2 linked regions of the Homo sapiens genome follow. The protein of the gene in region 1 interacts with the protein of each later gene in a pairwise test. Each region holds a gene or a part of one and is shown on either strand. Other genes may lie near its edges. The genes, in order: ALDH3A1 and ZFTRAF1.

Evidence for each region.
Region 2: the proteins of ALDH3A1 (region 1) and ZFTRAF1 interact in a two-hybrid assay, tested with the Homo sapiens proteins (one large-scale study listed by BioGRID).

The regions. Positions count from the first base shown.
Region 1 is NC_000017.11:19,738,009-19,741,811, forward strand, and holds part of ALDH3A1 (aldehyde dehydrogenase, dimeric NADP-preferring), read right to left. Parts: intron 3,203-3,803; coding exon 3,085-3,202; intron 2,470-3,084; coding exon 2,328-2,469; intron 1,667-2,327; coding exon 1,500-1,666; intron 1,088-1,499; coding exon 988-1,087; intron 446-987; coding exon 315-445; intron 228-314; coding exon 213-227; 3' UTR 1-212. UniProt on the Homo sapiens protein: ALDHs play a major role in the detoxification of alcohol-derived acetaldehyde. They are involved in the metabolism of corticosteroids, biogenic amines, neurotransmitters, and lipid peroxidation.
Region 2 is NC_000008.11:144,448,977-144,453,069, forward strand, and holds the end of ZFTRAF1 (zinc finger TRAF-type-containing protein 1), read right to left. Parts: intron 3,595-4,093; coding exon 3,383-3,594; coding exon of another isoform or gene 3,204-3,382; exon of another isoform or gene 2,149-3,203; intron 1,795-2,148; coding exon 1,403-1,794; 3' UTR 606-1,402; downstream 1-605. Other genes in the region: TMEM276-ZFTRAF1 (uncharacterized protein LOC157542 isoform 1 precursor), read right to left, coding at 1,403-1,794, 3,383-3,594.

The sequences.
Region 1 (3,803 bases):
GTCTCTTTATTGGTCTAGAAAGGGGTGGAGACTTGGAATGGTGAGGCCTGGGCCCATGTGGGAGTGGGGTGTGCACAGGTCAGCAGGTCAGCAGAGGAGTGGGGCTGGGCTGGGGCTGCAGGAGCGATTCTCCCAGGGCCAGGAGAGCCAGTGAGGGTGGTCCGCACTCCGATGGGACACAGTATGGCCAGGCCAGGCGGAGCAACCCCTCCTCAGTGCTGGGTCATCTGTGAAAGGGACACGGAGTGGGCAGTGATCCCCAGGCCCTGGTCCCGCACAGCCCGGTCTCCCCCACAGCGCCTTCCCCCTCTCACCTTGGCCGGGCTCGGGGGGTATCTGACCTTCAGGCCTTCATCATTCATCAGAGGCCTCACCAGGCAAGAGCGGCGGTGAGAGAAAGTCTCGAAGCTCTTCTTGCCATGGTAGGATCCCATGCCGCTGTTCCCTGCGGAGGAGAAGTAAGCACAGGGCTCAGCATCCTGCCCCCAGGACGCCCCAGGTTTCCCTCTCCACCTTGTTGGGTGTATCCCAGAACCACAGGGACAGGGAGGCAGAGCCCCAGCCACCATCACCCATCCTTCCCTCAAATCCTATGGCCCTCAGCACCCAGCCCCAGGTTGTGGCCCTTTTCTGGGCCTCCTGAGGGTGGCCAATGTCTAGGGTGTCCCCAGGGCATCCACACTGTGGGAGTGCCCAGCAAGGGTCTAATCCCAGCTCTGCCACTAAATGGCTGTGTGACCTCTGGCCTGGGTCACCTTTCTCAGGCCTCCATGAAATAGGCCGGTGCACCAGGTGACCTCTAGGAACCTCTAGGCTCCCAGGTTAAGTGTGTCTGATGGATGGCACGCAGAGGCCAAGGTCCAAATGGAAGAGGCTAATGGGAGGCTGCCGCCCGGGCTGCAGGAGGTGGTCCCTCCTGAATTTGCTGGGTGAGTGTGCCCAGCCCTGGGGCCCAGAGGGAGGCAGCAAGCTCAGCCCCAGACTCACCCACGCCCCCGAAGGGCAGAGAGTGCAAGGTGATGTGGACGATGACATCGTTGGCCGCCACCCCACCACTGGATGTCTCTGCAATCATCTTCTTAATCACCTGCACCAGGACCCAGCCACTGGCCTCAGTCTCCTGCCCACAGGATGCCCCAGCCCCCAACCCGACCCTGCCTGGGTATAGCCTGGAGCCACAAGGACAGGAGCAGGTGGAGGCAGAGCCTTAGCCTCCATCTCCTGCTCTTCCTGCAGACCGCGTGGCTGTCAGCACCACATGAGCAAAGAGTGACAGCAGCCGCCCCCATGCCTGTGTGCAGGGCCCTGGGCAAGGATCGCTCATTCAGTGCCCTCAGGTGATGCTGCTGTCCTGATCTTACAGACGAGGTGAAAGGAGCTCAGAAAGATCCAGTGACTTGCCCAAGGTCACACAGCCAGAGAACAGTGAAGCTGCAGTTTGAACCCAGGTCTGTGGGCCCCAGGACCCTGGCAGAGGGCACCCCAGGCCCACCACCCACCTTGTCGTTGCTGGAGAACATGTAGAGGGCCAGGGGCTTCTCACGCTGGTTGATGAACTGGATGGCCTCCTCCAGGCTGCGCACGCACACGATGGGCAGCACAGGCCCGAAGATCTCCTCTTGCATCACCGGGGACTGGGGGTCCACGTCCGTGAGGATGGTGGGGGCTGAGGCAGGAAACAAGCCAGAGTTGGACGGCGCAGAGACCCCCACGCGGATGGAAAGTGCAAGCACCTAGACCCCTGCTCCAACCCTTTTCCAGGCAAACCTGCCCAGGCTTGGAAAAGGGCAGGGACGAGGCCTCAGAGAGGTACCCTAGGCACCTGCGTCCTGGATGCCATCTGAGCAGACCACTGGGGACAACTATAGGTTAACCTGTACGGAAGGACCCGAGATCTGTCTCCAGGAGCAGGCACTGCACCTGCCGGCCACCTGATGCCCTGCCAGAATTCTCTTGTCTCCTTGACAAACTCGGGGCCAAGAGGGTCCCATCTGGTGACCCACAGCCTGGGCACTGGGGGCCCCTCACGGCTGGGCACACCTGGGGCTCCTGTGGCTTCTGCTGTCCCTGCTCCTGCTGCTTCAGAGGGGCAGGGAGATGAGGCCCCTCTTTCTGGGCCTTTGCTGGGAGAGGGGATTCTGAGGTTGAAGCAGGGGCTGTCCTCAGCCCCTGCCTGCTGGAGTCTACCGCAGGCTCCCTGGTGAAAGCAATTTATACCCATCCCGAGGTCGTGTCCGCTTATCAAGCATCTGTGCCCACTTGCTGTGAACTTGCTGGGGACCCCTGCAGCCTGGGCAGGTGGGCTGTGCTCTTCAGGGGTCACGCACCTATGTAGCGAGTGGCGGCATCCCCGGTGCCCCCATAAGCCACCTTCTGGCCCTCAATCAGGCCCATCACCCTCTGGAAGTGCCGGGCACTAATGATTCTTCCATAGTCCCGGGATTTCTTAGCATCTTCCCCGTAGAACTCCTGTGGAGAAGAGGTGGGGGCTTCGGGTAAGGACGCAGAGCCTCGTCCTGCCCAAAGGCTGCACAGACACAGGCCAGCAGTGTCTGTCTTTGGGTGGTGGGATTCTGGGTGGAGCTTTTTTCTTCTTTATGCTTTTTAATCTTTTCTAAATAATCTATAGTGAGTGTGCATTATCTTTTTTTTTTCTCTTAGAGACAGGGTCTTGTTCTGTTGCCCAGGCTGGAGTGCAGTGGTGCAATCATAGCTCACTGCAGCCTCAAACTCCTGGGCCCAAGCAATGCTCCAGCCTCGCCGTAGCCTTCTAAGTAGCTGAGACAACAGGCATGCACCACCATGCCACCATGCTTGGCTAATTTAAAAACATATTTTGTAAAGATGGGATCTTGCTATGTTACCCAGGCTGGTCTCAAACTTCTGGCCTCAAGTGATCCTCCACTCTCTACCTCCCAAAGTGCTGGGATTACCGGTGTGAGCCACCATGCCTAGCTTGCATTATGTTTATATTAGAAGAAAATAAATCCAGTGTTTCCAAATCTGTAGAAGTTGGTTAAGGGGCCAGGCCCCCCTTGTGCCTTACAGCCTCTCATCCCACCCTGCCAAGGGGTCAACACTCACTTTCAGTGACTTCTTGAGCTTCTCCACAATTTGGTTCTGGATCGAGGGGTCACAGAGGATGTAGTCAGGGGCCACGCAGGTCTGGCCACTGTTCATGAATTTCCCCCAGGCGATGCGTCTGTGAGAATCCCAGACTGGACTAAATCCAAAAGGTTCCCCAGGAGTTGCATCTCGTTTTGCAGACCCCTGAGCTCTCTGGTCAGCAGAAGCCATCGGCTGTGACCTTGCCACCAGTGAGTCCTCCCAAGCGGTCTGCTCACTTCTAGACACTGGACCGAGCAGACCCAATGGCCCTGATCATGTTCACCGGCGACTGGTGGGGAATTTCTAGAGGACGTCTGTTGAGGGCAACCTCCGTGCTCCCTGATCACGCCCTTGTCCTGCACAGCCAGGTGTCACTGCTACTCGGGCCCCCCTACATCTCTGGGGCCACAGATGTGGGATATGGAGGTGGTCAGAGCCCTGGCTAGGGTCAGGAGGTGCAGATACGGGTTCTGCCCCAGACCCCGAGCAGCGGTGGCCCTTCTCCCCTCTGGGCCTGCTCTCCAGAACTCAGATTGCCCTGCCCCATCAGAGGGCTGAACCCAGTACAGTTCCTTGTGTCCTGAACGTCCCACAGCTGCTTTTTCTGCAGCCTCTGCTTGGAGTACCACTTCCCCAGTGATGCGCACTCAGCAAACAGAGCTCAGCCTAGACCTCTCCCCCTCCAGGAAGCCTTC
Region 2 (4,093 bases), on another chromosome or scaffold:
TGGCGCTTACATTCTGCCCCCAGTTCCTCTCCATTTCTCAGCCCTCGACCCGTGACCAGCAAAGCACAGGACAATGTGGGCCAGGCCCCAGCAGCCAGTGGGGGCGGGTTGGGCTGCTGTGAGGCAAGTTAATGCACCTGACTGGAGCAGAGGAAACCAGTTCTTTGGTATTGAAGCAACAAAAAGCTATCACGGAAGAGCCACATCTCCTAAGCAAAGGTGGGGGCGTCAAGCTGTATCCTTCCCAGTAGCCCTGGGAGTCCCAGGGGAAGAAAGGACCAGGGATTACCCCTCCAGGCAGGGTTCCTTCCCATCCTGTTAGGCCAGCCCTGCTCAGCCACCACGGGGCACATCAGGGGGCGGCCAGGGTGAGGATGGGAAGGGCCCACCTCCTCCAGGTGAGAAGCTGGGCTGCCCAACCTCTGACCTCTGCAGCGAGCCCTGAATGCAGGGCCAGCAGCAGGACCCCGAGAGCAGCATGGGGGACACACCTCAGACTCTCACCCAGCCAGGCGCCCAAGCACTGACCCAAGCTTTCCACACAGCCTGGGGACGCTGGGCCCTCAAGGCTGAATCTACAGTAAATAGACTCTTTCTCACTAAAATTGTGTAACTTATCCAAGAGCCTGCAAGGAGTTTAATCTTTTTCCTGGGAAGAGACAATTTCACCCTGCTTTCGGAAAATGCCTGCTGAGCCCTGGTGGCTGAGTCCTGTCTCCCTGGGAGCGGCCGGTTGGCCAGGGCAGCCCCGACCCTACCTGGATCTTCCTGCCCAAGCCTCAGTCTCAAGACCCCATGACAGAGTGTAGGGGGAGGCAGTGTCTCTGAGTCTTTCCTCGGGGGACGTGTGCGGGCACACAGATGGGGGCGGGGCAGGCTCTGACCCCCAGGCCAAACCAAAGCCCCCACGCTGTCCATTCACAGCCATGCCTTCCCCTCGAACAAAACAGAAAGTACGAAACAAGGCTGCCTTTTAATTGCTATCAGATATTCGGATATCCCGTCTGATGTCAGCAAGGCCCCCGCGCCCCGCCGGAACCCGCAGGGATGGAGCAGCACCGCCGCCTGACTGCACAGAAGGGCTGGGGCAGGGTCGCTGTGCCTCTCGGCCTCCTTGCTGCCACCGTCTCTGAGCCTCGGGGCGCCTGGTGCACCGTCTCCTCTTCGGGTCAGCCCAGCCTCTGGCGGCCCTCGGAAGGAGGGGAGGCAGGGGTCGGGGGGGTGAGCCGGAGGCGGGGGCCCCGTCGCGCACGCATGCAGACTTGCCCTGTGTTGGCTTCGTTTGTTCTCCTCCTTTGCTAAAGTGATCAGATAGTCCTGTGAAGCAGCTGCCAGCCAGGTGGACAGGGCAGCGGTGCTGGGATGCCGCCCGTGGGCTCCTCGGACATCCTGAGGCCCCGCCCTACTTCTGTATCTGGAACAGGAAGAGCCGCAGGTTGATGTTCTTGGCAGCCAGCAGCTTGTTGCACTCCACGGAGTCAATGATGGGCAGTGGCACGTAGTCCGTCTCGTTGCTCTCGTTGGTGAAGACAAAGTGGTAGATGACGGGGCTGATCCTCACGTCGTCGTAGGGGCCCTTGAGCAGCAGGAAGGAGCACTCCAGCGGTGCCGTGACCTTGCTCTTGAGGAGGAGCTGGAAGGAGAGCGTACGCTTGCAGGACAGGTTGGGGTTACGCTCCGAGTCGTTGACTCGAGCCTTCAGGACCCACGTCTGGTTCAGCACTGTGAACCTGGGCGTCTCATAGTACAGGCGCGTGATGAAGTCGTCTGTGCGGTACGGCCGGAACTGGACCTCTGTGGAGACAGACAGGGCCGGAAAGAGCCGGCTGTTAGTGTGGGCAGGGCTGGGCAGCAACGCCTTCCCTGACCAGGCCGAGGGCAGGCTCAGCCGGGGAGGAAGGCAACTTACCCGGACACCGGGCTCTGCTTGTCACAAGCAAGCCAAACGCAACTATGGCAAATGGAGGTGCACACAAGCTTTGAGGGGAACAACCACAAACAGAATCAACATGGATTAGCTGGAGAGTCCAGAGGCTGCACGTGTCAGGCCACACCCCAGGCGTGCCCGACCCACGCTGGCCTCCCTCACCGCCCCGAGCCCCGGGTGTCCCCCAGGGCGGGGTAAGCAGACACACAGACAGGATGCGGTTCCGAGAACAAGTGCACTTTATTGGTTCTGATACAGAGGAGCTGCCAGAAAAGCCAGCAGGCGGCTGCGGCACCCAGCCCTGCCCGAGGGGAGCACCAGGTCTGCAGGCACCGGGCCTGATCCGGAGCTGCCAATCAGCAGGCAGCCCTGCCTGCACAGTCCTCTTGGGCAGCCCACAGCCTGTGGCCGGCAAGTCCCTCCGTGGAGGCGTGGGTTCCCAGGTGGCCAGTCTTTCCTGCGCGAATGGGGCTTCTCACCTGGCCACGGCCACAGCCACAGTGCCCCAGCCTGCCTAGACTCCACGAGGCCCCGGTATCTCCAGGACAGCTAAGGCTGCTACTCACCACGGGCTGTGGCTGCCGCAGAGACCCCAGGCCCTCGGCCTCTCTGGCCTGCTCGGGCCCACATCCCGCTGGGCACAGTCCAGGCAGCAGGGCGGGACTGGCTGCCCACGACCACCCTGCTTGCGCCACGCCTGGTGCTCTGAGCTGGCCGCCTGGTGTGGGCTGAGAGTAGAGGGATGGAGCTTCCTCCAGTGGCCCCAGCATCAACAGGTGCTTCTCGCTGTCCTCTGGGCCAGGCTCTGGCCTGGCTCCTGCTCCCCGACACGTTCAAAGGCGGTGGCAGCGGCCCAGAGAGCCACGAGATCCAGTGTGCCTGCGCACGCATCCAGCCTGGGCGTCTGTGGGTGTCCACTCCCGGTTCTACAGTTTGAGTCGGGCACCCTCAGCTTGTTGTGGAGCCCTCTCCCTGAATGGCTTCGTGCCAGCCTTGAGAGGCCCATGGCCGGGGCAGTGACTGCCTGCAGGTAGGACCTCACTCGGCAGGGTGCTCTTCTTGCCCCAGGGTCCGAGGGGCAGGCCCCTAGCTCCCAGGCCCCCTGAGACCTGCCCACTTTCTGGTTAGACCCTGACTGTCTTGAGGCTCTGGAGCCCCACAGTGAGATGCCACCTTGCAGGGATGGTGAAGCCAGGGTGGCGAGGACAGGTGGGCGGGGCTGCTGTGAGAGCCACACAGGTGTGCACCTGGGGTCTGCCTCGGCCCCTCCTTCCACTCAGTCTCCGGCCTGTCTTCTCGACCGAGGTGTCCACCTGTCCACCGGGAGCTTGTCCAGAGCCCGGCTGTCCGGCGCTGTCAGTGCCCAGTGCCCAGAGCCTGCTGCCCCCAGACTCCTGGCTGCCAGCCCCCCAACCCACACCTGTGTGGCATGCAGCAGGCGGCGGGGCGCCTCACCTGTGTAGCCAATCTTCTCGAAGCTGAGCAGGCTGAAGATGCTGTTGTACAGCTGCATCTCCTTGCGGTGGCTCTGGTCCATCCCATCCAGGATCTCCATCAGCTCACTGCCTGTCTTGGTCGGGTGGGCGCACGCAGCCTCGTGCACCGTCAGCTCATGGAAGGGGCCGTGCCATGGGCAGCCGATGCGTTTGTACTTGCACTGGGTTACCCTGGGGGAGGCAGGTACATCACTCACAGACTGAGCCCCGAACAGGAGGCTGCAACAAGCTGTCCTCCCATATGGCTTCCATCCAGCTAAGAACCCCTTCCTGCAGGACACACGTAACTGTGAGCCCACCCCCCAGGATGAGGTCAGAGTGGCAGCATGTGGAGAGAAAGGAGACAGGCAGAAAAAGGGAGAGAGAGGGGAAGGAAGAGTGCAAGCTTGAGCCTGTGTGCCCCGCACCATGGCGTGGTTCTCTCCTCTGTTTGGCAGTGGTGGTCCTGCACAGCCTCACTGCAGGAGACTTGGTGGCTGCCTCCACTGGATGGGTAGCCATGGGCAGTGTACCCTCACACCAAGCTCCCTGAGGTCCTGCGTTGGACACGCTGTCCTGGGCCCTTCAAGGGGCTCCCCCACAGCCACAAAGAGCACTGGAAGGCTAGGCTCATGTCCGGATAACAACTGGGTGCAAAACCCACCTGTCCCCATCCTGTGCAGGCACCCTC